Linked DNA regions of Homo sapiens: region 1 is linked to region 2. The links come from fine-mapping of genetic effects on gene expression. A gene starts in region 2. The other region holds a variant in brackets. All regions are shown on one strand. Distances are between the middles of the regions. Region 1 holds the start of CNPY4 (canopy FGF signaling regulator 4). Region 2 holds the start of TRAPPC14 (trafficking protein particle complex subunit 14).

Region 1 (15,202 bases), 38 kb after region 2:
CTCCAACCTGGGCAACAGAGTGAGACTCTGTGGAAAGAAAGAAAGAGACAGAGAGAGAGAGAGAAAGGAAAGAAAGAAAGAAAGATAATAATAGTACTTAGCTCAGAGCTGCGATGAGGAACAAATAAGTTAATGGATGGGGCTGGGCACGGTGGCTCACGCCTGTAACCCCAGCAGTTTGGGAGGCTGAAGGCTGAAGTGGAAGGATCACTTAAGCCCAGGAGTTCCAGGTCACAGTGAGTTTTGATTGCACCACTACACTCCAGCCTGGGTTACAGAGCAAGACTCAGTCAATAATAATAATAATAATAATGTACAGAAAGTGCTTAGAGCAAGTAGAACTGGTCTGCTCTGTGAGCTCTTAGGATCTCACTTCAGGCATCTGTTGCTGTTTCACCCCGCCCTACTCTGTGCCAGAGGTTGTCCAAGGTGCTGGAGGTCCCAAGCATAGGAGAGCCAGGCAGGTGTGGCCCCATCCCATGCCCATGGGAGCAATCCGGCTGCTGAAAGAAAACAGATATTAAATCATCACACTTGGGGAAGGGCACAGTGGCTCATGCCTGTAATCCCAGCAAAAAAAAATGCAGAGGGCCTGAGAAGGTAGGATCTTTTTAGGTCAGGAGTTCAAGACCAGCCTGGGCAACACAGTGAGACCATTTCTGAAAAAAAATGAAAAAAAAAAATTAGCTGATAGCCAGGCATGGTGGTTCATACCTGTAACCTCAGCACTTTGGGAGGCTGAGATGGGCAGATCACTTGAGGCCAGGAGTTTGAGACCAGTGTGGCCAACATGGTAAGACCCTTTCTCTACTAAAAATATAAAAATTAGCTGGACATGGTAGTGTGAGCCTGTAATCCCAGCTGCTGGGAAGGCTGAGGCACAAGAACCAATTGAACCCAGGAGGCAGAGGTTGCAGTGCAGTCTGCAGTACAAGATTGTGCTATTGCATTGCAGCCTGTGGGGACAGAGTGAAACCGTGTTTCAAAAAAAAAAAAAAATTAGTGGGGCATAGTGGCACTTGCCTGTCATCCCAGCTACTTGGGAGGCTGAGGCAGGTGGATGGCTTAAGCTGGAGGCTGCAGTGAGCTATGACTGCACAACTGCACTCTAGCCTGTGTGACAAAAAAATATGAACAAATACATAAGTCAGGTGACTAAGGGGTCATCTTTATGCCCTGTACCTTCTCTCAGCAACCTCCATCCTATAAGAAAGGGGCAATTGGCCAAAGTATGCCTCTGCTGTAGTTGTAGATTACCATGTTTGCACGATTATCATTGTCAATGCTTCACATTTACACTAGGGCACTATGATTTTCAATGCAGTTTCCATTTTTATTTTGGAGGCCCCTCCCACGAACCTTCTCCCATTTTACTGAGGCCCAGGGAGAATGCACAGGGAGCTGAGCCCCTCCTTTGATCTTAGTTTGGTGGCAGAGACAGGCAGTGATACTGACGATGTGATGGCAGTGTCAGGTGCACTCTGTCTTCACTAGAAAACTGGCCTCCTGGAAGGGCTGGAAGCTCCCACCCTTGACTGCTCTGACTCTGTCTCCAGCAGCTCTTCGCTGTTAGGGCTTCCCTGACAAGAGTGCAGTCCCTCTCGAGGCTGATTAGTGCAGGGCGGGCTCCTCGTCTCCGACCACCGGCTCCTGCTGGCTGTTCCCTCCACCCTCCGTCTCGGGCTGCGAGGCTTCCCTTAACACTCGAAAGGGGGGCCCGTGACCAGGTACGACCACGTCGGCAACGACCAGGACCCTCTTCCGGCTCCGCTCCTGGGCTGCGGGGTCTTCACTCAGTGCCTGCCACGAATCCTCGTCCCCATCTCGCTCAAACACATCTCCCGCCACCACCACGGTGCCCAGAGCCGTGCCGGCCACCACCACGCTCACGTCGCGCTGGCCCCCGTGGCCCGGCGTGGCCCACACCTCGAGCCCCGGGCCCAGGCGCAGGGGCTGCCCCTCACCCAGCCCGTGGGGCAGGTAGCGGCCTCCGGGAAGGCAGAAGTCGTGCGAGACCAGCAGAGCCGCGCCTGGGAACAGCCCCAAGTTCCCGATGTGATCCGAGTGCCCGTGGGTCCCCACCACTAGCGTCACGTCTCCCGGGGCCACGCCCTGCCCCGCCAGCGCCCCCAGCAGCGCCTCCCGAGCCCAGGGGCCCCCGGTGTCCACCAGGATGGGGCCACGGGCCGCCTCCTCCAGGGCGGCCTCTGCGCCGCCACTCCCGCGCGGGGACTCTCGGTGGCTGGAGGCCGGGCCCCGGGTCTGGGGTAGGACCAGGGTCACGGAGCCGTCGGCGCGCACGGCATCGCCCACACCCTCTGGCTCCGCGTAGCCCTGCAGCAGAACCACCACAGAGTAGGGGTCGCCGGGCACCAGCAGAGGGGATGCCCCGCACAGCGGCTCGGTCCGCATGAGGCTGCTCCTGGCAGGGAGGGACGGGCTGGGGAGAAAGGAAATGGAGCAGTGGGCGACCGTCCTGTCCCTCCGCGATCCCCCACCCGCGCTCGGCCCCGCCACTGCCCCTAAGCCTCGGTTCTCTGCCACCCGCCTCCCATTAAGTTGGTATCACCCTCAACCCCTGCCCAAAATGGTATCGCCCAGACTCCCTTCACACTTGGGCCCGCCCCTCCCTCGGCGTCCTCGGCCCCCGCCCCATTCCGTTCGCGGTACGTACGTCCTTGCCCGTCACCCTCCAAAGGCTATCCTTTATGTTTCCCTCCATCGAATCCTAGCCGCGCTCTACCTTGGGCCTCTGCTAGGTCTTGCCTCACTCGAAGAAAGCGCAGAAATCGAAAACGCGGGTGAGAGTTTGTCCTCTGCGGTTCCCGTGTACCCAGATATGGCGGCCGAAGCGGCGCCGCGGAGGTAGCTGTAGTTCCGGCGCCTTCACCGTGTGCCCGAGGAGGCTGCCTGGCTGGGCTCCAGCCTCCTGGCGGTTCTCCGCTCCGCAACCCCAGCAACTTCTTTGCACTGCAGAATTTTGAAGCGCCATTAGCTTTGAGGAGGGTTCATGCTCAGTTGCCCAGGCAGGAGTGCAGTGGCGCGATCATACCTCACTGCAGCCTCAACCTCCTGGGCTCATGTGATCCTCCCGCCTCAGCGTCCCGAGTATCTGGGACCACAGATGCGCACCACCAAGCCCAGCTAAGGTTTCTATTTTTTCTTTCTCTTTTTTTTTGGAGACACGGTCTAGTTCTGTTGCCAGGACTGGTCTGGAACTCCTGGGCTCCAGCGATCCTCCAGTCTTGGTCTCCTGAAGTGCTAGGATTACAGGTGTGAGCCACCGCGCCTGGTCTTTTTTTCTTTTGAGACAGTCTCGCCCTGTCGCCCAGGCTAGAGTGCAGGGGCACCATCATAGCTCGCCCCAGTCTTGAACCCCTGGTTCTAGCGATCCTCCTGCTTCAGCCTCCTGGAGTGCTGGGAATACAGGCGTGCACGCCCCTCTAAATTTTTTTTGGTTTTTTTTGAGACGGAGTCTTGTTCTGTCGCCCAGGCTAGAGTGCAGTGGCGTGATCTCAGCTCACTGCAACCTCCGCCTCCTGGGTTCAAGCGATTCTCCTGTCTCAGCCTCCCGAGTAACTGGGATTACAGGCGCCCACCACCATGCGTGGCTTTTTTTTTTGAGACGGAGTCTCGCTCTATCACCCAGGCTGGAGTGCAGTGGCACGATCTTGGCTCACTGCCAGCTCCGCCTCCCGGGTTCCCGCCATTCTTCTGCCTCAGCCTCCCGAGTAGCTGGGACTGCAGGCGCCTGCCACCACACCCGGCTAATTTTTTGTATTTTTAGTAGAGACGGGCTTTCACCGTATTAGCCAGGATGGTCTCGATCTCCTAATCTTGTTATCCACCCGCCTTGGCCTCCCAAAGTGCTGGGATTACAGGCGTGAGTCACCGCGCCCAGCCGCCCGGCTAATTTTTGTATTTTTGGTAGAGACGAGGTTTCTCCATGTTGGCCAGGCTGCTCTCGAACTCCTACACTCAGGTGATCCGCCTGCCTCGGCCTCCCAAAGTGCTAGGATTACAGGTGTGAGTCACTGCGCCCAGCCTCCAGGCTGGTCTTGACCTTTTGGACTCAAGTGATCCTCCCATCTCCACCTCTGCAGTAACTGGGACTACAGGCGCTGCACCACCAGCCCTGCAGTCTTCTTTGTGTGTGTGTGTGTGTGTAGAATTGGGGTTTCACTATGTTGCTCAGGCTGGAGCTTGAGCTTAACAAGACAGCGGCCATTCTGGGTGCTGCCTCATCGACCAGCTAGCTATGTGTGCCCGGCTGTTGTTTGAAACTTTGGGCCCAGCTAGTTTTTAGAAAAAAAGAAAAAAGTTTAATAGCGATATAGAAAATTGAGCACCTATAAAACTATATGGTGGGCTCTGGGTTACATTGAGCTTAAGTAGACCAAGTATCTATCCCACCTAAATTATCAGCAACTCCAGGCCATGACCCAGTGTCCCATTCTCCTTCACGGTTTGCTGGTGTGTAGCCTCCTGGATACAGGCAATGTATATAGATCGCAGAGAATGTCCGTTCTGGCCTCTTCCTTGGAAGGGTCTAAAAACAGACCTTAAGGAGCTAAGTGACTTCCCCAAAGCCCACAGCTCCAGTGCCACTGCTGACTTTTGGGTGGGGGTGGGATCAGTTAAAGAGGAAAGCTTTCAGTACTGTCAGCACATACACCTGCCAATTAAGGGGCTGGATAGAGTTCATCTCTAGGAGCAGGACCTCCACCCCCACCCTCCACCCCAGAAGCCATGTCATGCTGTTTCACCAGGATCTTGCCTGAGGTTAGATGGGAGAGAACAGCTACAAGCTTGGGTGGAGTCACTCATAAACACACCCTGAAAGCTGTGGAGCAGGGAGAGTGCAGGCTTTAGAGGGCTCTCCATGATCCCTTCCCCTCCTGGGGGCTCAAAGGCAAGGGTCAAAGATCTTCTCGGTCAAGTTTGGGGTGGCTTCCTGTCTTGGTCATCTTGTCTCCCCCTTCCTCTTCCTCCTCTTCCTCCTCCTCCTCCTGCTCTTCCTCCCCTTCTGTTTTCTCTTCCCCATCTGTGATCTCCTTTCCAGTCCAAGTTTCCTGTAGACATGCTAGATCGGATGACAGAAAACAATTTAGATATTAGTCCTGGAGGCAGGGGAGGCTATGGCTTGGCAGGAGAGGAGTTCAACCCTTACGCTTACCAGTTTCAGCAGCTGGGAGCACATGACCTTCACAGAGAAAATTTTGTAGGGGCTGCTCCTGATGGTGGAAGTACCAGTCTCCCACAATGTCTTCAAACTCCTCCAACATGGTCTCACACTGGTCAAGTAGAAGGGCCAGAAGAGTATCTGCTCTGGAGGGATTTGGGATCCCGCCTGTCTTCTCTCCCTGCTCAACCTGACTGATTTTGGAGAGGCAGGTAGCCAGGAAGCTAAGTTTGGCCTACTAGATGTGCAATCCTCATTCATTCAACAAACATTTACCAGCACCTATTCTGCCAAGTAGATTATTAAACTCTTGAGTCTCAGCTCCTTGCCTGTAAAATATGTATGGTAATTGCACCTACCACATCAGGCTGTTAAGGGTAAAATGAGGCTACAGATGCAAAGTATCTGGTCCAGAGTCTGGGACACAGTAGGTGCTCAATAAGTGATGGTGGATATCATTAGCAACCATTGTTACTTTTTTTTTTTTTTGAGATGGAGTCTCGCTCTGTCACCCAGGCTGGACTGCAGTGGTGGGATCTCAGCTCACTGCAACCTCCGCCTCCCGGGTTCAAGTGATTCTCCTGCCTCAGCTTCCTGAGTAGCTGGGACTACAGATGCATGCCACCACACCACCACGCCCGGCTAATTCTTGTATTTTTAGTAGAGACAGGGTTTCACTATGATGGCCCGGCTGGTCTTGAACCCCTGATGTCGTGATCCGCCTGTCTCGCCCTCCCAAAGTGCTGGGATTACATACGTGAGCCATCGCACCTGGCCCATTATTACTTTTTAAAAATTTTCCTTAAGGCAGGGCCCAATGGCTCATGCCTGTAATCCCAGCACTTTGGGAGGCCAAGGCGGGTGGATCACCTGAGGTCAGGAGTTCGACCAGCCTGGCCAACATGATGAAACCCCGTCTCTACTAAAATTACAAAAAATTAGCTGGGCGTGGTGGCAGGGGCCTGTAATCCCAGCTACTCGGGAGGCTGAAGCAGGAGAATGGCTTGAACCCGGGAGGCGGAGGTCGCGGTGAGCCGAGATGGTGCCGGTGCACTCCAGCCTGGGCAATAAGAGTGAAACTCCGTCTTGAAAAAAAAAATTCTTTAAAATTATTATTATTTGTAGAGAAGGGGGTCTCTTATGTTGCACAAGCTGGTCTCTAACTCTGGTCTCAAACAGTCCTTCTCCCTCAGACTCACTAAGTGCTAGCATTACAGTTGTGAGCCACTCCACCCGGCTCATTATGATTTCTTTTTTTTTGTTTTTGTTTTTGTTTTTTTTTTTAAGATGGAGTCTTGCTCTGTCGCCCTGGCTGGAGTGCAATGGTGCGATCTTGGCTCATGGCAACCTCCACCTCCTGGATTCAAGCAATTCTCTTGCCTCAGCCTCCCAAGTAGCTGGGATCACAGGCGTGCACCACCACGCCCAGCTAACTTTTGTGTTTTTATTAAAGACGGGGTTTTGCCTTGTTGGCCAGGCTGGTCTCGAACTTATGACCTCAGGTGATCCACCTGCCTCAGCCTCCCAAATTGCTGGGATTACAGGTGTGAGCCACCGCACCCCACCGCTCCTGGACCCACTTTAATCAATGGCACAGTCCTCACTCTG[G/C]CCCCTTCCCCATGCTTAGGGGTAGACATCCCCTATAGTCAAACCCTAGAACCTAGCTCCCCTCTCAGGTTCCCTTCTCACCTCCCTGGATGGTGCAGTGTCTTATCCTACCTGCTTCTTGAGGTATGTGACCTCCACGCTGGGCTCATCCCAAAGCTCCAGAGGGATCCCCAGATCCACCTTCACCCCCTTCTGCACTAGGCCTTTCAGTGTTGCCATGGTCTGACTCTGACCCTGAGAGATTAAGAATTTGGCATCAGCCCAGCTCACCACCCCACCCCTCCCTTCCCCTTTCTGCCATTTCAGTTTTGTCAACTACTGGAGATTCAAGGGTGAGTTCCATGATGGTGAGATGATGGGCAGATAACCTCTGGAGGGCCTCAGGGGATACAGATCTTTGTATCTGAGAAGTGGGGTCCTGCCCTGGGGAAGGGTCTGACCTTGGCATATCTCAGTGAGCCCTTGCGCTCAGCGTGAACACTATAGTCCAGGATCCGCTCACATAAATTCTCTAAGGCCTCTTCCAGCCTTGTCTCTCTGTGGAAAGAGAGGAAACAAAGATTCCCTGGATGCTGTAGGAACTCCCAGGGCTCCGTTGGGGGTTGGAAAGGGGAGGAGCACGAAGGACTCACGAAACGCTGTAAGGCACGTGTCTCTTCCTCTTGCCTGTATCCAGCACCTGCCCCAGCTCCAGCACCTCTCGAGATCGACCGGTGCGACTCAGTTCCGCCTGTAGCTCTGTGCTCAGCAGCTTACACACTGGTGGGGAGGAGAAACGTCCGGGGGGAGGTAAAAGACAAACACACCAGCCATTCATTCTGCAGATGACCTGAGGCAGCAGAGCATACAAGTGCAGACTATGGAGCCAGACTGGCTGGGTTGGAATCCTGGCTCAGCCATTTAGCAGCTGTGTGGCAATCTTCCTGCTTGCTGTGCCTCGGTTTCTTCATCTTTTTTTTTTTTTTTTTCAGACGGACTCTCGCTCTGTCGCCCAGGCTGTAGTGCAGTGGCGCAGTCTCGGCTCACTGCCAGCTCCGCCTCCTGGGTTCACGCCATTCTCCTGCCTCAGTCTCCCGAGTAGCTGGGACTACAGGCACCCACCACCACGCCCGGCTAATTTTTTGTATTTTTAGTAGAGACAGGGTTTCACCGTGTTAGCCAGGATGGTCTCGATCAGCTGACCTTGTGATCCGCCCGCCTTGGCCTCCCAAAGTACTGGGATTACAGGCGTGAGCCACCACGCCCGGCCGGTTTCTTCATCTTTATAATGGGATAATAGGCCAGGAGTGGTGGCTCACACCTGTAATCCCAGCACTTTGGGAGGCTGAGGCGGGCAGATCACTTGAGGAGTTCAAGACCAGCCTGGCCCACATGGTGAAACCCCATCTCTATTAAAAATACAAAAACTAGCCAGGTGTGGTGGTGCGCACCTGTAATAGCTACTCGGGAAGCTGAGGCAGGAGAATCACTCGAACCCAGGAGGTGGAGGTTGCAGTGAGCTGAGATCCCACCACTGCACCCCAGCCCAGGCAACAAAGGGAGACTCCATCTTAAAAAAAGTAAAATACATTAAAAATAAATAGGCCAGCACAGTGACTCATGCCTGTAATCCCAACACTTTGGGAGGCTGAGGTGGGTGGATCACGAGGTCAAGAGATTGAGACCATCCTGGCCAACATAGTGAAACCTTGTCTCTACTAAAAATACAAAAATTAGCTGGGCATGGTGGCGGGCGCCTGTAATCCCAGCTACTTGGGAGGCTGAGGCAGGAGAATCGCTTGAACCCGGGAGGCGGAGGTTGCAGTGAGCGAGATTGCACCACTGCACTCCAGCCTGGGCAACGGCATGAGACGCTGTCTGAAAAGAGAAAAAAAAAAAAAAAAAAAAAAAAAAAAAAAAAATATATATATATATATATATATATATAAAATTAATACAATTGGATAATAATAGTATGTCCCTCATAGGAGTGTGATGAAGATTAAATAAATCAACATATATAAAGGCTGGCACATAGTGAGCACTGTATAAGTATTCACTGTTATCCTGCAGTTATTTATTGAGCTCCTTCTGTATGCATACTAACAATATAGACAGCAATAAGACCTATTATCTCTATCTACAGGTCTCTGTCAGTGTAGTTGGGACAGATAAACCAAGGATGACAAGCTGTGGTGAAGCTGGGCCTGAACTCATGGGCTCAAGTGATCCTCCCACCTTGGCCTTCCAAAGTGCTGGGATTACAGATGTGAGCCACTGTGCCCAGGCCCGTTGGCTGTATTCTGATAGAAGGCCTGCAGAGGTGTTAAAGCAAGGACTGATACAATTAGGTGATTAAGTCTGTTTAAAAAGATTGACAGGTCAGGGGAGAAGAGCGGCACACGGAGGTGAAAGGAGACAGAGATGAGGACCAAGTCATGAGACTGTCATGACTGCCTTTCATGATACTGGAATACAGTTGAGGGGGTGAAGCGAAGAGAAAAGGAATCCAGGGAAGAAACGTAAAGTCAGGAGGGCAGCAAACTAGGGCATCAGGGCCAGCCCCCTTTCTCAACTGGGCCCCACGCTAGTGCAGCTATGGAAGGCGCTGCTTGCTGAAAAATCCATATAGTACGCACCGTCTGCAAAGTCTCACCGGATGGGGACACTCTCCTAGTTGTGTGGCTTCCTTTTGTTTATGAGCTTCAAAGGCTGAATTACTCACCCTCAAACCCCCTCAGCGGGGTGTGGGGCCTGTAATTTGGGAGCGTCTATGCTAGGGTAGGGCAGCGGATGTCCACAAGGCCTGAGCCTCACACCCGGCTCCTGCAGCCTCTGCAGATTAAGGTCTGGTGACATGAGGTAAACACTCACTGAAGATGCTCTAAAAGTTGGCAGTCCCGGGCCGATGGTCCCTGAACTACAATTCCCACAATCCATTGGCGGGCGGGGGGTTCCAAGCCAGCCAAAAAAATGCAGGCTCTCTCTGGATGCAGTTTGAGGTGGCACTACACGTTCGCTTCCTTGACCCCATCCAAATTCAGCCAAGCTCCACCAGAACCTCCCTCAAGCCTTCAAGGAGGTCGGGTGACCCACCCAATACAGGCTAGGATGTCCGGCCTAGAAGAAGGAGGTGTGGCCGGGCGATGCCTATAGGGGCTACCCCCTTCAAATACCTTCGCATTTGCTGGGCAAGCGTTCTGTGTCATCGTCCTCCTCCTTCAACATCCCAGCCCAAGCCTCGTGCACGGCCAAAAAAAGGAAAAGCAATATTCCCAACCGCACAGGTCCCATGACAAAGCGCCGTCTACAAACAATCACCGCTTGCCTTCAACTTCGGGAAGGTAGTGTGGGTCCCTTAAATTCCCAGGCGGCTAGCGGCAACCTTAAATCCAGCCGAGGAAGGTCGGCGCATGCGCAGGATCAGCCCAACAAGGGTGGGGCCTCGTTGCTACGGGTTTCCCTGCCTCCGTTTTGTGGCGCCTCTTGAAGGTCCTGGCAGCCGGGTAGTGAAGGAATAAATTGCAGTAATTACACCAAGAGGGAGTGCTCCTTATATATAGATGTAGAAACAAACTTTTAAAATATAATTTCATTCTGCGAGCCTAGAGGACTTATTCTGGTACGGGGAAGGGGCAGTGACTTGCTCTTAGGCTCTGCCAGGACCTGCTCCCACGAGGGGGCGGGGCCAAGATGGCGCCGAGCGCCGGGTGAGCAGCGTCTCGGCTGCCGCTAGAGTTTTCCTGCTCCCCGCGCTCGGGTGGCGGGGGCGGGTCTGAGTGGTACCCCGGAGGAGACCCTTTGAAGGTCCCTTGTGGGGACTGGAAAGAGGACGGTTGGTTGTGTGTCTGTGCTCGTGGGGACCCCGTGTGTGTGCCTGCATTGGAGAGATGTTGCAGGAGATGGGGTGGGCTCTCTGAACCTCCTTTCGCGCTGCCCGGGGATCTTCGACCTGCTTCTCTGCTGGGATCTCGCTTAAGTTAACCCTTCCCTGGGACGCCTTCCTGCCGCCTCCACTGATCTGAGGAGATCCTGTGACTGTAGCGTGTTTTATGAGCCTTTACTGGCAGAGGGTACCGCCGGGTATTGAAGGATTCGTAGGAGTTCGCCAGGGAAGTGGGACACGACCCCCTCTTGTAAACCCGGCGCCAGGCACAGAGTATGTCTCGAATAGTTGTGTTCCCTATAGATAAGACTTATAAAAGTCGGGGAGGAGATCAGGGATGGTTTGAAAAGAACCAATTTGTTTTTCGGCCTCCCTCTTCCCATCCTTCCAGCACGGCCCCACCCTACCTGTACTACTCCTAAGCAGTATTGATATGTTAATCTTCCTAATGTCCAACTGCAAGTGTGCCACTTTAATTTTTTTTTGTTTTTTTTTTGAGACAGGGTTTCCGTCTGTTACCCAGGCTGTTGTGCAGTGGCACCATCTTGGCTCACTGCAGCCTCCAACTCCTCAGTTCAAGCGATCCTCCTGCCTCAGCCTCCTAAGTAGCTGGGATGACAGGTTCACACCACCAGGTCCGTCTAATTTTTTAATTTTTGCAGAAATGGGGGTCTCACTATGTTGACCAGGCTGTCTCAAACTCCTGGCCTCAAACAATCCCCCCACCTCTGCCTTCCAAAGTGCTGGGATTACTGGGGTGAGTTACCTCTCTTGGCTCCAATTTGCTTTTTTTTTTTTTTTGAGATGGAGTCTCTCTCTATCGCCCAGGCTGGAGTGCAGTGGCACGATCTCGGTTCACTGCAACCTCCGCTTCCTGGTTCAAGCGGTTCTCCCACCTCAGCCTCCCAGATAGCTGGGACTACAGGCGCCCGCCACCATGTCTGGTTAATTTTTGTGTTTTTACAAAAAGACAGGGTTTCACCATGTTGGCCAGGGTGGTCTCGAACTCCTAACCTCAGGTGATCTTCCCGCCTTGGCCTCCCAAATTACAGGCGTGAGCCACTGCACCTGGCTCCACTTTGCTTTTTTTGTTTTTTTTTTTTTTTTGAGACAGAGTCTGGCTCTGTTGCCCAGGCTGGAGTGCAGTGGTGCGATCTCGGCTCACTGCAAGCTCCGCCTCCCGGGCTCACGCCATTCTCCTGCCTCAGCAGCCTCCCGAGTAGCAGGGACTATAGGTGCCTGCCACCATGCCTGGCTAATTTTTTCTATTTTTTAGTAGAGACGAGGTTTCACCTTGTTAGCCAGGATGGTCTCAATCTCCTGACCTAGTGATCCGCCCGCCTCGGCCTCCCAAAGTGCTGGGATTACAGGCGTGAGCCACCACGGCCGGCCCAGTTTGCTTTTAACTACAGTGTAGGCTCAAAGCTTGGGCCTATGACCTATTAATAATAGTGATACCAAGTATTTACTGAGCACCAATATCTCTAAGCCTTACAACTAATTCATTTACTTCACAAATATTTATGATGTCCCAGGCTGGGCTCCTGGAATACATCAGTGAACATAATAAAGAGCTCTGTCGGCCGGGCACAGTGGCTCACGCCTGTAATCCCAGCACTTTGGGAGGCCAGGGTGGGTGGAACACCTGAGGTCAGGAGTTCAAGACCAGCCTGAGCAACATGGTGAAACCCCATCTCTACTAAAAATACAAAAATTAGCCAGGTGTGGTGGCGCATGCCTGTAATCCCAGCTACGCAGGAGGCTGAGACAGGAGAATTGCTTGAATCTGGGAGGCGGAGGTTGCAGTGAGCCAAGATCGCGCCATTGCTCTCCAGCCTGGACAACAAGAGTGAAACTCTAGCTCAAAAAAAAAAAAAAAAAAAAAGAGCCCTGTCTAGATGGTGGACGGAGACGGGGTCTCACTCTGTTGCCAGGCTGGAGTGCAGTGGCACAACCTCTACTCACTGCAACCTCCACCTCCTGGGTTCAAGCAATTCTCCTGCCTCAGCCTCCCGAGTATCTGGGACTACAGGTGCACATCACCACGCCCAGCTAATTTTTGTATTTTTAGTAGAGATGGGGTTTAACCATGTTGGCCAGGATGGTCTCGATCTCTTGACCTCGTGATCTGCCCACCTCGGCCTCCCAAAGTGTTGGGATTACAGGCGTGAGCCACTGCGCCATGCCCAAAAGATGTTAAATGCTATGGAAAAGAAAAAGTGGGCTGCCCCCACTCTGAGGGCAGAGTGCAGAGTTAAATAGGGTGGTCAGGGTAGGCAGCCAATTAGATATTTGGGAAGAACATTCCAGGCAGAGGGAATGCAGCAAAGGCTATTAAGCAAGTACATACCTGGCAAGTTTAAGGAGCAGCCAGAAGGAATGTATGTGTCTGGATCAAAGTGGAAGAAGGAAGGGCGTTCAGAGATATAATGGGGAGAAGGTAATTTTGAAGGGCTTTGTAGGACATTATAAGGATTTCGTCTGTTTTTTTTGTTGTTGTTGTTGTTGTTTTTGAGAAGAAGTCTTGCTTTGTTGCCCAGGCTGGAGTGCAATGACACAGATCTTTGCTCACTGCAACCTCCGCCTCCCGGGTTCGAGTGATTCTTCTGCCTCAGCCTCCCGAGTAGCTGTGATTACAGGTGCCCGCCACCATGCCCATCTAATTTTTTTATTTTTAGTAGAGATAGGGTTTCACCATGTTGGCCAGGCTGGTCTTGAACTCCTGCCCTCAAGTGATCCGCCCACCTTCGTCTCCCAAAGTGCTAGGATTACAGGCGTGAGCCACTGTGCCTGGCCTGAGATGGGGTTTTGCTATGTTGCCCAGGGTGGTCAGGAATTCCTAAGCCCAAGCAGTCTTCCCACCTCACCCTCCCAAAGTGCACAGATTACAGGCATGAGCTGAGCCACTGCACCTGCCCATTATAAGGATTTCAGGTTTTACTTTATGGCAAGTGGAGAGCCATTATGAGGGTTTGAGCAAAGAAATGACAATCTGCTTTACAGTTTGACAGAAGCATTTTGGCTGCAACGTTAGGAATAGATGTAGAGAAAGGCAAGGGTAGACTCCGGTTGACATTGTTAGGAGGTTTTTGGAGTTACCCAGTGGATAGATGATGGTGACCTGGGCCAAGCAGTGGGAGCAGAGGAGTCAGGTTGGACTACCTGGTGGATTGATTGATTTTTGAGACAGAGTCTCGCTCTGTCGCCAGGCTGGAGTCCAGTGGCACGATCTTGGCTCACTGCAACCTCCACTTCCCAGGTTCAAGTGATTCTCTTGCCTCAGCCTCCCGAGTAGCTGGGACTACAGGTGCGTGCCACCACGCCAAGCTAGTTTTTGTATTTTTAGTAGAGATGGGATTTCACCATGTTGGCCAGGATGGTCTCCATCTCTTGACCTGGTGATCCGTCCGCCTCGGCCTCCCAAAGTGCTGGGATTACAGGTGTGAGCCAACGCGCCCGACCGGATTTATTTTTTTACCTTTTTTTTTTTTTTGAGACAGAGTCCATCTGTCACTGAGGCTGGAGTGCAATGGCGCAATCTCAACTCACTGCAAACTCTACTGCCGAGGCTCAAGTGATTCTCCTGCCTCAGCCTCCCAAGTAGCTGGGATTACAGGCACGCGCCACCATGCCCAGCTAATTTTTGTATTTTTAGTAGAGAAAGGGTTTTACCATGTTGCTCAGGCTGGTCTCGAACTCCTGACCTGAAGTGATCCACCCACCTTGGCCTCCCAAATTGCTGGAATTACAGACGTGAGCCACCGCACCTGGCCTACCTGGTGGATTTGATGTGAAGGCTCAGATAAAGAACAAGTGTCTGGATGGATGGCATTGCTATGAAGATAAGGAAAGCTGAGCCTGGGCCAGACACTTCGGCTCACGCCTTTAATTCCAACACTTTGAGAGGCCAACGCTGGAGGATTGCTTGAGCCCAAAACTTCAAAGTGGTGGGATTGAAGCCCTGAGGTGTAACAGAAAAAGATAAAAATCTGGGCTGGGCCTGGTGGCTCAGGCCTGTAATTCCAACACTTTGGGAGGCCGAAGCAGGAGGACTGCGTGAGCCCAGCAGTTCAAGACCAGCCTGGACAACATAGTGAGACTCTGTCTCTGCCCCTGCCCCTGCAAAAAATTGGCTGTGTGTAGTGGTACACACCTATAGTCCCAGCTACTTGGGAGGCTGAGGTGTGAGGATTGCTTGAGCCTAGGAGCTCCTGGGCTCTATCAGTTTTCCCACCTCTGCCTCCTGAGTAGCTAGAACAACAGCCCTGTGCCTGCATACCCAGCTAATTTTTGTATTTTTTGTACAGATGGGGTCTCACTGTGTTGTCCAGGCTGGTCGTGAACTGCTGGGCTCAAGCGATCCTCCTACCTTGGGCTCCCAGAGTGTTGGAATTACAGGCATGAGCCACTAGGCCCAGTCCAGATTTTTTTTTTTTTTTTCCTGAGACGGAGTCACCCTGGCTGGAGTGCAGTGGCGTGATCTCGGCTCACTGCAACCTCTGCCCTCTGGTTTCAAGTGATTCTCGTGCCTTAGTCTCCCTAGTAGC
Region 2 (15,202 bases):
CAGAGAGGGCAGGTCTCCGGGAGTAAAAGTGTGGCTTCTCTCTGCTTGGGGTTACCCCTGGCTCATCGGAGCAGGGAGCTGTCGGGGCTTGTTGGAGGGGCCGTGGTCCCTGATCGCGAGTTGTAATCTGAAGGGGCGGGGCTGGACTCCCGGTTGATTAGGAAGCTCGGGCTTCAGAAGGAACTCTGCAGTTAGTGTTTGCGCCTTTCTCCTTATCTTTGTGTCATAGTCTCTCTGTCCCTCTGTCTCTCTCTCTCTGTTTCTCTGTGTGTGTGTGTGTGTGTGTGTGTGTCTCTCTCTCTTTCTGTCTCCCTCTCCAGCCCCACCCTTTCAGTCTCCTCCGGGTGCACTGATAAGGTTGGAAAGTGGAATGGTGGGTAAGTCCAGGGATCTGGGCTTTATAAGTAGCCACACGTCTCCCCCAGCCCCTGTCATACATGGGGGTCTGCCCCGTGCTGAGACAGAGAAAAAAGAGGCGCGGGAATTTATAACCCAATGGCTCTTACCCATTGCAATGCCACTCCTGGAAGTCCAACCTCCCTTCCTCCTGCCTGGGTTCATACACCTGTGTCCTGTCTGATCCTCATTCCCACTGTATGGCTTCCCTTCCTGGTCCTGGGATAGGGCTCTTTATCCCCATCTGTGACAGCCAGAGGGGCTCTGGAGGAAACCAGGTTCCCGACCATGGTCTGACCTGACTGTGTTAATGAGCTGATTGATCTGATCTCTCTCTCTCTTGCTGGCTGTTTCATTCACGAGCTGGGGCTTTTTCTCTCCTTCCCTTATAAATCCCCAAGGCTCAGGGACAACTGTAGGTGGGGAGCGGGAGGAACTGGAGATAAGAAAGTGATAGAGCAGAGACAGTAGTTGTGGGGCCACCTAGGAGAGTCTGGGTATAGACAACATCCCCAGCCACTCCCCTTCCCTGAAGGAGGTCTCAGCTGCAGCAGGAGAGAAGGCTGCCTCTGCCTCTCTCCTTAGACTTCCCTTCTTCCCCCCTCATTTCCCTTCTAGACGCTGACAGAGGCAAAAATCTGCTAACTCAGGGGGCAGACTCAACCAAGACTGTGAGCAGGCCTGGGGAATGACCCCCCGATCTCCAACCAGTGCCTTCCGCAGCTGCACGGCTGTCTCCAGCTGTCTCTGCCCCTCTTCCTGGCCCTGGCTCCATCTCTCTGTCACCTCACCCTTCCCTGTGCCACATGGGCCCTCTCTCTCCTGCCAGGACGCTGCGGCTCTGGGGACCTCGGAGCCTGGGGGTGGCTCTGGGAGTCTTCATGACCATTGGCTTTGCACTCCAGCTCTTGGGAGGGCCCTTCCAGAGGAGGTGAGTTCCCACTTTGCCCCAACTCCTTCTAGACGCCCCGTACTTGCTCTTCCCCATCCCACCTGGGGCTGGTGACTCCTGAGGACTCAGAAGCCTCCATGCCCTCTGTCCCTTCTACCCATTTGCTGCTGAGGAACAGGACACTCCCCCTCCATCTCTTCCCAGGCTACCTGGGCTACAGCTCCGACAGCCCTCGGCCCCATCCCTACGACCAGCCCTTCCGTCCTGCCCACCCCGGCAGCGACTGGTGTTCCTGAAGACACATAAATCCGGGAGCAGCTCTGTGCTGAGCCTGCTTCACCGCTATGGGGACCAGCACGGGCTGCGCTTCGCCCTCCCTGCCCGCTACCAGTTTGGCTACCCAAAGCTCTTCCAGGCCTCTAGGGTAAAAGGCTACCGCCCACAGGGTGGAGGCACCCAGCTCCCCTTCCACATCCTCTGTCACCACATGAGGTTCAACCTGAAAGAGGTAAGGAGTGTCGCAGTGGTGGGAGGGACCAGAAACAGATGGGCTCAGGCTGACACCACCAAGGGAGGGGGCCCAGACCTGGGGGCTCCCCAGGCATCATCTCACCCTAAAGTTGGACATAGGGGCCACAAAGTTGGGCTCCCTGCCATCCTCTCTACAGGTGTCCCTTCCCCAGTAGTTTCTGGGAGCCCAAGTCCTCCTCCCTTCTCTCTCTGGCGCTTACTCCAGTCTCTCTCTTTCACCAATGTATTTCCCTGGCATCAGTGCCTTGCCAACTCTGAGCCCCCAACTCTCCCTCCAGGTGCCCCTTACTCTTCTGTTTTTAAATTATTTTTTGGAAGACAGGGTCTTACTCTGTCGCCCAGGCTGGAGTGCAGTGGCACAATCATAGCTCACTGCAGCCTTGACTTCCCAGGCTCAAGTGATCCTCCCACCTCAGCCTCCTGAGTAGCTATGGCTAAGGCATGTGCCACTACACGTGGCTACTTTTTAATTTTTTGTAGAGATGGGGTCTTGCTATGTTGCCCAGGCTGATCTCAAACCCCTGGGCTTAAATAAATAAATAAATAGTCCTGGGCTCAAGTGATCTGCTCACCTTGACCTCCCAAAGGGTTGGGATTACAGGAGTGAGCTTGCCCAGCCTGTGTGTGTGTGTGTGTGTGTGTGTGTGTGTGTGTGTGTGAGACAGGGTCTCATTCTGTCATCCAGGCTGGAATGCAGTGGTACAATTATAGCTCACTGTAACCTCAAACTCCTGGGCTCAAGCGATCCTCTCACCTCAGCCTCCCAACTAGCTGGGACTACAGGTGCATGCCACCACACCTGGCTATTTTTTTATTTTATTTTTTGTAGAGATGGAGTCTCACTATGTTGCCCAGGCTGGCCTCAAATGATCCTCCCACCTCAGCCTGGCAAGTACCTAGGACAACACGCCCCTTCCCTTTCTTAGCCTCCCTTTCACTGTCACACCAGGGCCCCACCTCCCCCACTGCCTTCTGACTTGTCTTCTTCAACCCCCTCACATTTTGAGGATCAGCTGTATTTTTAGCCCGGGACTAAGCCCAGCACTTTGGGAGACCAAGGTGGGCAGATCACCTGAGGTCAGAAGTTCGAGACCAGCCTGGCCAACATGGTGAAACCCTGTCTCTACTAAAAATACAAAAATTAGCCAGGCGTGGTGGCACACGCCTGTAATCCCAGCTACTCGGGAGGCTGAGGCAGGAGAATTGCTTGAACCCAGGAGGCAGAGGTTGCAGTGAGCCGAGATTGTGCCACTGCACTCCAGCCTGGGCAACAGAGCGAGACTCCATTTCACAAAAGAAAAAAAAGGCCGGGCGCAGTGGCTCACGCCTGTAATCCCAGCACTTTGGGAGGCCAAGGCGGGTGGATCACAAGGTCAGGAGATCGAGACCATCCTGGCTAACACAGTGAAACCCCGTTTCTACTAAAAATACAAAAAATTAGCCGGGCATGGTGGTGGGTGCCCGTAGTCCCAGCTACTCAGGAGGCTGAGGCAGGAAAATGGCATGAACCTGGGAGGCGGAGCTTGCAGTGAGCTGAGATCGTGCCACTGCACTCCAGCCTGGGTGACACAGTGAGACTCTGTCTCAAAAAAAAAAAAAAAAGGAAAGAAAGATAAATAAATAAAATTGAAAATTAAAGTGGCAGAGCTGGAAGTTGAGCCCAGGTCCATGCACTCCAAAGTCGAGGCTTCTTCCGAGGCTTGTGCATGTGTTTGTATCTGGAATGGTGAGAAGAATATTCACCAAAGAGGTGATGCTTTCTGGAGAGGGGGGTTTATTTTACTTTATTATTTAATTTTGATTTTTATTTTATTTATTTTGAGACAGAGTCTTGCTCTTTCCCCTGGGCTGGAGTGCAGTGGCACGATCTCAGCTCACTGCAACCTCTGCCTCCCGGGTTCAAGCAATTCTCATGCCTCCCAAGTAGCTGGGACTACAGGCACCCGCCACCACGCCTAGCTAATTTTTGTACTTTTAGTAGAGACAGGGTTTCGCCATGTTGACCAGGCTGGTCTCAAACTCCTGACCTCAAGTGATCCGCCCACCTCAGCCTCCCAAAATGCTGGGATTCCAGGTGTCAGCCACCGTGCCCAGCCGAGAGCGGGGGGTTTTAAAGGAAAAGGTGGATGTGGCTTGTGGTAAGGACAGCATGAGGCATTCTTAGAGGGAGCAAAACACCAGCAAGGACATGGTGGGGTGCACGTGTGTGTGTGCATGTAAGAGGGAGAACGTCTGTACTGGGGGTAGAAGTTCCACAGGGGCTGCAAAGTCACCCTTGTTGAAGCTGGAGCTGGAGACACCAGCTGAGGACATGGGCGTGCTCTGATGGGCAGCGAAAGGCCACTGCCAGGAGTGAGGCAATGACAGTGACCTTTGAGGTAGGTTTCTCCAGAGGCTAGGATGATGGCCTTCACTGACGCCACCATTCACTGAATACCTACCATGTTCCAGACACTTGCACATTCTTCCAGGTAAGTGTTACCCAGTTACTCAGATTTCTAGATGGAGGAATGATGGCTCTGAGACCTTCAATAACCCGCCCAAAGTCACAGAATTAGTAAATGGCAGAGTGGGATTTTATTCCAGGTCCAGATGCCAAAGACTGTTTTCTTCGCTTTCCCCTCTGCCTTCAAAGAGACCTGCAGGGCCAGGCATGGTGGCTCATGCCTGTGATCCGAGTGTTTTGGATGCTGAGGTGAGAGGATTACTTGAGCCCAGGAGTTCAACGCCAATCTGGGCAACATAGCAAGACCCCATCACTACAAAAAAATTAAAAATTAACAGGGAATGTTGGTGTGTGCCTGTAGTCCCAGCTATTCAGGAGGCTGAGATTGGGGAATCCCTTGAGCCCAGGAGTTTTCAAGGCTGCAGTGAGCTATGATATGCTGCCTAAGTGACAGAGCAAGGAGACACTGTCTCTTAAAAAATAGTAAGAAGAAAATAAACACTGAAAAGCTAAAATGCTCATTTCCTGTCCTCCCCCTCAAAAAAAAAAAAAAAAAAGAGAGTTCACAGGCTGCTATTCAGGTGTGCCATACTTGCAGAGCCGATTGAGGAACACCATGACAGACAGAAGTCAGATTCAATGATGGAAGTCATTTTTGGAGGCAGAAACCCTTCAAGGAGACTAGGAGCTAGGTTCTGACCTGCATCAGCCTGCAGGGCCACGTTAGGGTGTGGTGCAGCCTGATCTCCACCTTCATTCTTGCAGAGCGGTGTAATCACGTGTCCCAGCCCTCAGGGCAGCATCCTACCAGGCAGCCGTGGCTTCCCAGTGTCCCAGCCCAGGGTGTTTTTTGCCCTCTAGGATGCCCAGGAGACCCTGAAGTGCTTTACCCCTCAGCCATTCTGGGCCTGGCCTGCCCACCTGCTGCCTATGCCCGAGATGGCATTATAGTTGCTCCTTTGTTGCCAGTGATGCCCCCTCCCAGGCACTCAACAGGTTTTTGCTGGAGAAATGAGTACAAAGGTTGGTTCCTAGAGGTTTTACTGACCAAGGCAGACAGAAATGCCCGAGGAAATTAATGTTCTCCAGGAGTTTCCTATCCTCCAGGTTTCCGTCCCTCCCTTCTTTCTTTTTTTTTCTTTTTCTTTTTTTTCCCTTCCTTTTCCTCCCCTCCCCTCCCCTTTAAAATTAGTGCCCGGCTAATTTTTAAGTTCTGGGATACATGTGCAGAATATGCAGGTTTGTTACACAGGTATACATGTGCCACGGTGGTTTGCTGCACCTGTCAACCTGTCATCTAGGTTTTAAGCCTTGCATGCATTAGGCATTCATCCTCATGCTCTCTCTCTCTTCCTTTGCCCCTGACCCCGACAAGCCTCTCCTCTTCCCCCTCTCCCTCCCCTCTCCCCCCTCCCCTCCCCTCCCCTCCCCTCCTCTTCCCTTCCCTCCTTCCCTCTCTGGCTGCTTCTTTCTTTTTTTTTTTTTTTTGAGACAGAGTCTCACTTTGCTGCCCAGGCTGGAGTGCAGTGGCGCGATCTCGGCTCACTGCAACCTCTGCCACCCAGCTTCAAGCGATTCTCCTGCCTCAGCCTCCTGAGTAGCTGGGATTACAGGCGCCTGCCACCACGCCTGGCTAATTTTTATAGTTTTAGTAGAGATGTGGTTTCACCATCTTGGCCAGGCTGGTCTTGAACTCCTGACCTTGTGATCCACCCGCCTCAGCCTCCCAAAGTGCTGGGATTACAGGTGTGAGTCACTGCACCCGGCCCCTTTCTTTCAAGGCAGGGTCTTGCTGTGTTGCTCAGGCTTGTCTTGAACTCCTGGGCTTAAGCAATCCTACCACCTCAGCCTCTTGAGTAGCTGGGACTACAGGTGTGTACCAGGATACCGCGCTAATTTATTTTTATTTTAAGTTCTGGGATACATGTGCAGAACATGCAGGTTTGTTACATAGGTACACATGTGCCCTGGTGGTTTGATGCACTGATCAACACATCATCTAGGTTTTAAGCCCTGCAGGCATTAGGTATTCATCCTAATGCTCTCCCTCCCCTTGCTCCCCACCCCGACAGGCCCCAGTGTGTGATGCTCCCCTCCCTGTGTCCATGTGTTCTCACTGTTCAACTCCCACTTACTTATGAGTGAGAACACATGGTGTTTGGTTTTCTGTTCCTGTGTTAGTTTTGTTAGTTTACTGGAGTAGGTTAGTTTGCTGAGCATGATGATGGCTTCCAGCTTCATCCATGCACCTGCAAAGGACATTATCTCATTCTTTTCTATGGCTGCATAGTATTCCATGGTGTATATGTGCCACATTTTATTTATCCAGTCTATCATTGATTGACCTGCTAACTTTTTTAGTTTTTTTTTTTTTTTTTTTGAGACAGAGTCTTGCTCTGTTGGCCAGGCTGTCAAGTGCAGTGGCACGATCTCAGCTCACTGCAACCTCCGCCTCCTGGGCTCAAGCAATTCTCCTGCCTCAGCCTCCCGAGTAGCTGGGATTACAGGCGTGTGCCATCACACCTGGCTAATTTTTTTGTATTTTTAGTAGAGACGGGGTTTCACCATGTTGGCCAGGCTGGTCTCGAACTCCTGACCTCAAGTAATCCGCCCGCCTCGGCCTCCCAAAGTGCTGGGATTACAGGCTTGAGCCACCATGCCCGGCTTTTTAGTTTTATTTTTGTAGAGACAGGGTCTCGCTATGTTGCCCAGGCTGGCCTCGGCAACATAGCAATGCTCAAGCCATCCTACTGCCTCAGCCTCCTGAGTAGCTGGGACTACAGGCACACAAAACATGCCTGGCTCCATGCTCCAGATTTCTTGTATGTTTTATCTCATGTATCTTTCATAGTCACTTGAGAAAGTATGATTATCCCCATTTGCAGATAAGCAAATTGAGTCTCAGAGATGTTAAGTAACTTGCCACTCAGCAAGTGATGGAAGCTGGGGATTCCTAGCAGAGCTGGGAGGAGGAGGTTTCAGGAGGCTGGTCAGCGGACACATGGCTTGTGCATACTTATGCATACCTTCTCCCCAGCCCAGTTCTCTCTCTTCTGTCTTCCCTCCTCTGCAGGTACTTCAGGTCATGCCTTCTGACAGCTTCTTTTTTTCCATTGTCCGAGACCCAGCGGCTCTGGCTCGCTCTGCCTTCTCCTACTATAAATCCACCTCATCAGCCTTCCGCAAGTCACCATCTTTGGCTGCCTTCCTGGCCAATCCTCGAGGCTTCTACAGGCCTGGGGCCCGTGGGGACCACTACGCTCGCAACTTACTATGGTTTGACTTTGGCCTGCCCTTTCCCCCAGAGAAGAGGGCCAAGAGAGGGAATATTCATCCCCCCAGAGACCCCAACCCCCCACAGCTGCAGGTCTTGCCTTCTGGTGCTGGCCCTCGAGCCCAAACCCTCAATCCCAATGCCCTCATCCATCCTGTTTCCACTGTTACTGATCATCGCAGCCAGATATCAAGCCCTGCCTCTTTCGATTTGGGGTCTTCATCCTTCATCCAGTGGGGTCTGGCATGGCTGGACTCTGTCTTTGACCTGGTCATGGTGGCTGAGTACTTCGATGAGTCATTGGTTCTGCTGGCAGATGCCCTGTGCTGGGGTCTAGATGACGTGGTGGGCTTCATGCACAATGCCCAGGCTGGACATAAGCAGGGCCTCAGCACTGTCAGCAACAGTGGACTGACTGCGGAGGACCGGCAGCTGACTGCACGGGCCCGAGCCTGGAACAACCTGGACTGGGCTCTCTATGTCCACTTCAACCGCAGTCTCTGGGCACGGATAGAGAAATACGGCCAGGGCCGGCTGCAGACAGCTGTGGCCGAGCTCCGGGCTCGCCGAGAGGCCCTAGCGAAACATTGTCTGGTAGGGGGTGAGGCTTCTGACCCCAAATACATCACTGATCGCCGGTTCCGCCCCTTCCAGTTTGGGTCAGCTAAGGTTTTGGGCTATATACTTCGGAGTGGATTGAGCCCCCAAGACCAAGAGGAATGTGAGCGCCTAGCTACCCCTGAGCTCCAGTACAAGGACAAGCTGGATGCCAAGCAGTTCCCCCCTACCGTCTCACTGCCCCTCAAGACTTCAAGGCCACTCTCCCCATAAACATCAGACTACAGATTTAGGTGGAAGAGCAGCCATGTTTGAAGGGCACATGTGATGAGTGGGGGGCAGCAAGATGCCATTTCTGCATCTCCCAGAAGGGATGAGTCTTTGTCCCGATGCAAGCCCCCTCTTCGCTGGGCTCCCAGCAGTGCTTCCCTCCTCCACCCTCCACTCATTTTGTTCTTTCCCCCCAACTTTTTTTTTTTTTGAAACGGAGTCTTGCTCTGTCCCCCAGGCTGGAGTGCAGTGGCATGATCTCGGCTCACTGCAACCTCTGCCTCCCAGGTTCAAGCGATTCTCCTGCCTCAGCCTCCAGAGTAGCTAGGATTACAGATACGTGCCACCATACCCGGCTAATTTTTATATTTTTAGAGACAGGGATTCAACATGTTGGTTAGGCTGGTCTTGAACTCCTCACCTCAGGTGATCCACATGACTCTGCCTCCCAAAGTGCTGCCATTACAGGCGTGAGCCACTAGGCCTGACCTCCCCTTCCCCTTTCCTGCCCCAAGGCAGATCCACATCACCGAAGCTCCCTAGAGGGGCAAAAGATGGAGTGAGCCACAGGAAGTTTGGGGCGTGGTGAGTTGGAATGATACGTCCATTTCTCTATGAAATATTTGCTACTAGACTGTTCATTTCTCTCTGACATGTTTGTTGAATGAATAAATAATTTGAAACTTCTACTTGATTTATGGAGGGTGGAAAGGGGAGGGATGGAGAATCTTCCTGGGAGAAGTGGGGTTGGAAGGGTTGTTTTTTTTTTTTTTTCCGAGACAAGATCTCACTCTGTCACCTAGGCTGCAGTCCAGTGTCCCAATCATAGCTCACTTCAGCCTCAAACTCCTGGGCTCAAAGGATCCTCCTGCCTAGGCCTTCTAAGTAGCTGGGAATACAGGCGCGCGCCACCGCGCCCGGATAATTTTTAAATTTTTTGCAGAGAGGAGTTCTTGCTATGTTGGCCAGGGTGGTCTTGAACTCCTGGCCTCAAGCGATCCTGCCGCCTCGGCCTCCCACAGTGCTGGGATTACTGGCGTGAGCCAACCCGCCTGGCCGACGAGGTCTTCCATTTCTTTTCCAAGAAGCCTGGCCGCAGCCCCCGCCTGCATTCTCGCAGCCTCAGAGCAGCGGGACCCCGCCCCCTCCTCCACGGTCCGGGCACCCGCAGATTCCGGGGCCTCGGCGGCCACGCCCCCTCCCTTCCGCTTCCTGTTTCTCTCCAGTCATTCGGCTCAGTACCCCGGTTCCGGCGCTGCCGGGTCTCGGTTCGGGTTCGTTGCCCCGGTGCCGGGACCGGGCCGGTCTCTCCGGCCGCCCCAGCCGGGCGCAGCAGCCGGAGGTGTCGGGACCCTCTGGACCCACCCTAGCGGGCCCCGCCGGCGGTCGGCCTCCGGTCCGGGCTCCCAGTCGCGCCGTCCTCGCCGCCCCATGGAGTCCCAGTGCGACTACTCGATGTACTTCCCGGCCGTGCCGCTGCCGCCGCGCGCGGAGCTGGCAGGGGATCCGGGCCGGTACCGGGCGCTGCCCCGGCGCAACCATCTGTACTTGGGGGAGACTGTCCGTTTTCTGCTGGTGTTGCGCTGCCGGGGCGGTGCGGGGTCCGGCACCGGGGGCGGCCCGGGCTTGGGCTCCAGAGGAGCCTGGGCAGAACTGGCAACCGCCCTGGCCGCCCTGGCCTCGGTCAGCGCCGGAGGCGGGATGCCGGGGGGCGGCGGCGCCGGCGACCAGGATTCGGAGCCCCCAGGGGGAGGGGATCCTGGGGGTGGGGGTTTGTTCCGAGGCTGCAGCCCCCTTCTCACCCACGGCCCGGGCCCTGCTACCTCAGGGGGAGCGACCACGGTGAGGAGCTTTGGGGGACCTGGCACAGGACGGAGGGGCGGTTTGCTGGGGGCCTGAGGCAGGAGGCAGATGAACTGCCGGTCTTAAAGGGAAAGGCTGCAGGCTGCCTCTGACTTGCTCCTGACCTCTTCACCCCTTTCCCAACCCCAGCTGCCTGTGGAGGAACCGATTGTGTCCACAGATGAGGTCATCTTCCCACTCACCGTTTCACTGGATAGACTGCCCCCAGGGACACCTAAGGCCAAGGTAAGATGAGCAAGAGTGGAGCTATTGTCCTAATTCAGACACCTTTTCCGGGCTCAGCCATCTGTCTTTCCTCTTGACAGATTGTAGTGACTGTGTGGAAGCGGGAGATTGAGGCACCAGAGGTCAGAGATCAAGGCTACCTGCGATTGCTGCAGACCCGATCTCCTGGGGAGACATTCCGGGGCGAGCAGAGCGCTTTCAAGGCCCAAGGTGGGCAGGGCAGCGCAGAGGCAAAGGGCTAGAGTCTGGGAATTGGGGGACAGAGGGGAGGGGTCACACTGGAAAGTGGCTAATGGGCTCTGAGAAGAGGAAGGTGAGAATTCTGGGTTGGAGGTGAGGTCAGCCTCCAGACCATCACTTCTTGCCCCCACCCCCTCCCGCAGTGAGCACGCTGCTGACTCTGCTGCCCCCTCCGGTTCTGAGATGCCGGCAGTTCACTGTGGCTGGAAAACACTTGACCGTGCTCAAGGGTAAGCAGGGCTGCCGGCTCCAGCCTCCGGGAGCAACAAGGGAACTGATTGGATGCAGTTCCTCTGGGCAGGCTGGTGGGGTAGGTCCGGTTTTTTCTGGGTAAAGGTGGGGCCTGAGGGGTCCAGCTATTCTGAGCCAAGCTGGTCCTCTCCCACAGTGCTGAACAGCTCCTCTCAGGAGGAAATCTCCATCTGGGATATCCGAATCCTCCCCAACTTCAACGCCAGTTATCTACCTGTCATGCCCGATGGCTCTGTGCTGCTGGTGGACAATGTCTGGTGAGGTCCTGGGAGGGGCGAGGCTGTGAAGTGGTGGGGATGGCTTCAGGGGCTGAGCTCTGGCATGGGGAGACCATGCCTTGTCCTCTTTTCTGAGCTAGTCACCAGTCTGGGGAAGTCTCCATGGGCTCCTTCTGCCGCCTACCCGGGACCTCTGGCTGCTTCCCCTGCCCGCTGAATGCCCTGGAGGAACACAACTTCCTGTTTCAGCTGAGAGGGGGTGAGCAGCCCCCTCCAGGGGCCAAGGAGGTGAGCATAAGGGGCTGGTGTGTTCAAAGAAAAGTGATAAGGCAGTGGGAGGGAAAGACCAGGCAGCTGACTCAAGATGGGAGGGGCACTCTTAATACCTGTGCCAACCCCCTTTGTCCCTCCTGCAGGGCCTGGAAGTTCCCCTGATTGCTGTGGTTCAGTGGTCTACCCCAAAGCTGCCCTTCACTCAGAGCATCTACACCCACTACCGGTGAGTGTGGATCCTGGAGGAATCGTGGCGTTCGCCTTTGTGGCCTGACACACACAGCCAGCATCCCTCTCTCACCACTCCTAGCCTGCCCAGTGTCCGCTTGGACCGCCCGTGTTTTGTGATGACCGCTTCTTGTAAGTCCCCTGTTCGGACCTACGAGCGTTTCACTGTCACCTACACGCTGCTTAACAATCTCCAAGACTTCCTTGCTGTGAGGCTCGTGTGGACCCCAGAGCATGCACAGGCTGGTAGGTCAGCTGCCAGGTAGGAATTTGGTCCCCAGGGAGGGGAAGAGAAAGGAAAAAGTCAGGGAGGCAGGACAGTGAAAACAGCCAAATTTGGTGCCAGCCCCATCACAGGAGGCGACTTGTGGCAGGTGGCTTCCGCCCTGTACCTGGGTGGTCTCCCCAGTGTCCTAGATGGAGAGTTTAGAGAGGCAGTGGGGCAGAGTGACTTTCAGGGCATAGACACTGGAGCTGCACTCGCTGGTGTGAACTCTACTTCTCTCCTTTACTAGCTGTGTGACCTTGAATAAGTTACTTAACCTCTCTGGGCCTCAGAGTCCTCACCTTTAAAATAGAGCAACTCATATCTGATGGGGCTGTCATGCAGATACTGAGTTAATATACGTGACGTGCCTTGCACACAGTACGTATTAGCTGTTGTTATCTACAACATGCACAAAAGATAACGTTTGCTCAGTTTACTCCACAGAGTGGCTTTGAGAATCAGATGAGACTGTGCTGGCGAAGGCCCTGTGGGAATGAGGAACGCTGTAGTGTTTGCTGGTCCCTGTTTCTGCCCCCAGGAAAGCAGCTGTGTGAGGAGGAGCGCCGGGCCATGCAGGCTGCCCTGGACTCCGTCGTCTGCCACACGCCCCTCAACAACCTTGGCTTTTCCCGGAAGGGCAGCGCGCTCACCTTCAGTGTGGCCTTCCAGGCTCTGAGGACGGGGCTCTTCGAGGTGGGCTGGGGAGGGTCTGGGCTGAGTGCTGAGTGATGCAGAATGCTGGGGTGGACGGAGGCAGGACCCTTAGATTTTGGGGATGAAATAAAAAGCTGGGCAGAGGGAAGGTGGGATTTAGATTTGACATCAGTCTGTCACATGGGGAAGACCATTTGGAAGGAGGCCTGGGTCCTGGAAGCCGAGCTGGCATGCTGACCTGTGTCTCCCCCCAGCTAAGCCAGCACATGAAACTGAAGCTGCAGTTCACCGCCAGCGTGTCCCACCCTCCACCCGAGGCCCGGCCCCTCTCCCGCAAGAGCAGCCCCAGCAGCCCTGCTGTCCGGGACTTGGTGGAGAGGCATCAGGCTAGCCTGGGCCGCTCCCAGTCCTTCTCCCACCAGCAGCCTTCCCGAAGCCACCTCATGAGGTACAGAACCAGGGGGCGTGGCATGGGACCGGGTAGAGGATGGGAGCAGCGAGGGTGCCGGGTCTGACCAGCGCCCACAGCCTCTGCCTTCCCCCAGGTCGGGCAGTGTGATGGAGCGCAGAGCCATCACGCCCCCTGTGGCCTCTCCTGTTGGCCGCCCCCTCTACCTGCCCCCGGACAAGGCTGTGTTGTCTCTGGACAAGATTGCCAAGCGCGAGTGCAAGGTCCTGGTGGTGGAACCCGTCAAGTAGCACCGTGCCAGCTCTGTTCCCTCTTACACTCCAGAGACCCAACGCCCCCAGAGGGGATCCCTGCTCCCGGGCTGTGCCTCCCCTGGGATGCCTCCCAGACGGGGGTGAAGAGGCCTGGCAGAGCTGCCTGTCTTGTGTCTGCTGATGAGGGATGGGGGAAGAAGCTGTGAAGTGGGCGGGCATGGCTGGGACTAAGCCACCAGTATTCCCCGAGTTCCTGTGGGGGGGGCTGGCCCCACCCCTAGGCCAGGGCAAGGGTTCCCAGAGCTCCCTTGTCCCCGGCCCTTTACCCTGGTTCTGAGTTTACAAAGTCTCTTCCTCATTCCCGTTGAGTTCTTTCCCACCTCTGACATTCCCTCCCTCCCTCCCGCAGGGCTGAGATTAGAGGGTGGTGATGGCTAAGGGCCCCTGACAGTGACCTTCCTGTCTCAGGGGTTGGGGACAGGGCCAGGTAGCCTCCTGCCCCTTATGTTTACGTTTGCAGCCTGAAGCACTTTAATTTTTTTTTTTTTGGTCTGTTCCTGTAACTTATTTTCCAACTATTGCTTCCAACTGAAATAAGACTATTAAATGCCTGTTCAGGAGGGAGAAGGATGACTAGTTTGTGTACTGATGGGAAGAGCAGAGGTCGCCAGGGCTCAGGGTGACTCCCTTCCCCTCCAGCTTTTTCTGCTTCCCAGTTTTATAGCACACAGAGGTGGCCCTGCCGCACCCAACTTGGGCTAAGGTGCATGACTTTCTCCCCAGAAGGTGGAAGACAGACATGGGGTGTAACCATTCCAACACTAAACACACATGTCCCTGGGCTGGAGAACATCAGACTCATGTTTATTAGGGAGTGAGGGAGCACAAAGGGAGGTCTCCTTGCCCTTGTTCTCCTTAACACAGCTCAGAGTCCCCAAGCCTGGGCCCGTCCAGGTAGGGGTGGGAGGTGGGCGAGCAGAAGGCCCTAGTTCTAGCAGCAAGCCAAGACCGACAGGTGTGCCTGCCTCATCACAGAGGCCCAGGACCCAATCCGCTTCTCCGACCCTCGCCCTCCGGCAGGCTCAGACATCAATGGGCTCCCGACCTCGGTTCTGCCTCTTCACCACAAACACCCTCTGTCCTGACACCGTCACCAGCAGTGTGTGTTCTCCAAAGACCACTGGAGGAGAGACACACCTTCCCCCGCCCCAGGAGAGGGAAGGGAGCACAGAGTTAGTGGGTGCAACAGACTCCATGGGGCGGGGCCACACGCACATTGGCTGGGATCAAAGCCAAAGAAGTTCTATAGTTCCAGGCTCAGAGATTTGAAGATGAGTGGCCTCTGCTAGATCTCCTTTCTCTTGCCTTCTCATTCACAATTCTGATACCAGGGAGTCCCAAAGGGAGGAAAGTGGCCAGACCAGAGACCCCAGGAGATGGTAGGAGGCTGGAAGAAGAGAAGCCGAGAAGCCCCTGGAAGTAGCCCCCCGCTCCCAGTACCACCACCAAGGGCAGGGGCAGGGGCTCACCAGACAGGCGCTTGAAGGGCACATTCATGCCGCGGTGCAGCCGGAAACCGCAGGCTGTGCTGACCAGCTCAGAGATGGCACTGGCTGCCTGCTCATCATTCTCCAGGTCCCCAGATGACTGCATGCAGACGGAGGAGGGAGAGGGGCGGGCATTACGGCACAGGCTCAGGAAGGAATTCCAGGCACAGTCCCCTTGGTTCTCACACTTAGACCCTCTCCCCCTTGGCTTGCCAGTACCCTCAGCTTTGGAAAAAAACAACCTGAAATCTCCCCCTATAATGTTGTCACCCTCCGGATGCCATCCTGTTTCCCATAATACTGGCCTTCCCCGGATGAGCAGTAACTTATCCATCTTTTTTTTTTTTTTCTTTTTTGAGACGGAATCTCGTTCTGTCACCCAGGCTGTAGTGCAGTGGTGCAAT

The links. PIP is the estimated chance that this variant, and not a neighbour inherited with it, causes the effect.
Region 1: its variant is fine-mapped to the expression of TRAPPC14 in whole blood (INTERVAL, PIP above 0.99).

What each region holds. Positions count from the first base shown.
Region 1 is chr7:100,114,606-100,129,807 of GRCh38, reverse strand. CNPY4 (canopy FGF signaling regulator 4) reads right to left here and starts at 10,174. Exons shown (of 6, transcript NM_152755.2): 1 at 9,946-10,174; 2 at 7,423-7,549; 3 at 7,231-7,327; 4 at 6,902-7,024; 5 at 5,177-5,294; 6 at 4,300-5,083. The coding sequence starts at 10,063. The coding sequence ends at 4,920. MBLAC1 (metallo-beta-lactamase domain containing 1) reads right to left here and starts at 2,841. Exons shown (of 2, transcript NM_203397.3): 1 at 2,744-2,841; 2 at 1,313-2,440. The coding sequence starts at 2,412. The coding sequence ends at 1,612. TAF6 (TATA-box binding protein associated factor 6) reads left to right here and starts at 10,450. Exons shown (of 15, transcript NM_139315.3): 1 at 10,450-10,604. RefSeq lists silencers at 1,932-2,411, 2,502-2,621 and enhancers at 2,822-2,891, 3,602-4,271, 9,478-9,547, 9,918-10,137, 10,348-10,497. The variant G/C (reference allele first, on the strand shown) is at 6,791.
Region 2 is chr7:100,153,096-100,168,297 of GRCh38, reverse strand. It overlaps TRAPPC14 (trafficking protein particle complex subunit 14), which reads left to right and starts at 9,575. Exons shown (of 11, transcript NM_018275.5): 1 at 9,575-10,209; 2 at 10,360-10,455; 3 at 10,536-10,665; 4 at 10,839-10,925; 5 at 11,084-11,204; 6 at 11,306-11,453; 7 at 11,582-11,664; 8 at 11,749-11,912; 9 at 12,473-12,627; 10 at 12,843-13,036; 11 at 13,134-13,875. The coding sequence starts at 9,799. The coding sequence ends at 13,287. It overlaps GAL3ST4 (galactose-3-O-sulfotransferase 4), which reads left to right. Exons shown (of 4, transcript NM_024637.5): 2 at 1,015-1,327; 3 at 1,493-1,796; 4 at 7,339-9,054. The coding sequence starts at 1,203. The coding sequence ends at 8,370. MIR4658 (microRNA 4658) reads left to right here and starts at 11,629; the gene lies at 11,629-11,693. It overlaps LAMTOR4 (late endosomal/lysosomal adaptor, MAPK and MTOR activator 4), which reads right to left. Exons shown (of 4, transcript NM_001008395.4): 3 at 14,781-14,898; 4 at 14,095-14,431. The coding sequence ends at 14,334. RefSeq lists an enhancer at 7,495-7,994 and silencers at 9,441-10,080, 10,111-10,260, 10,292-10,468.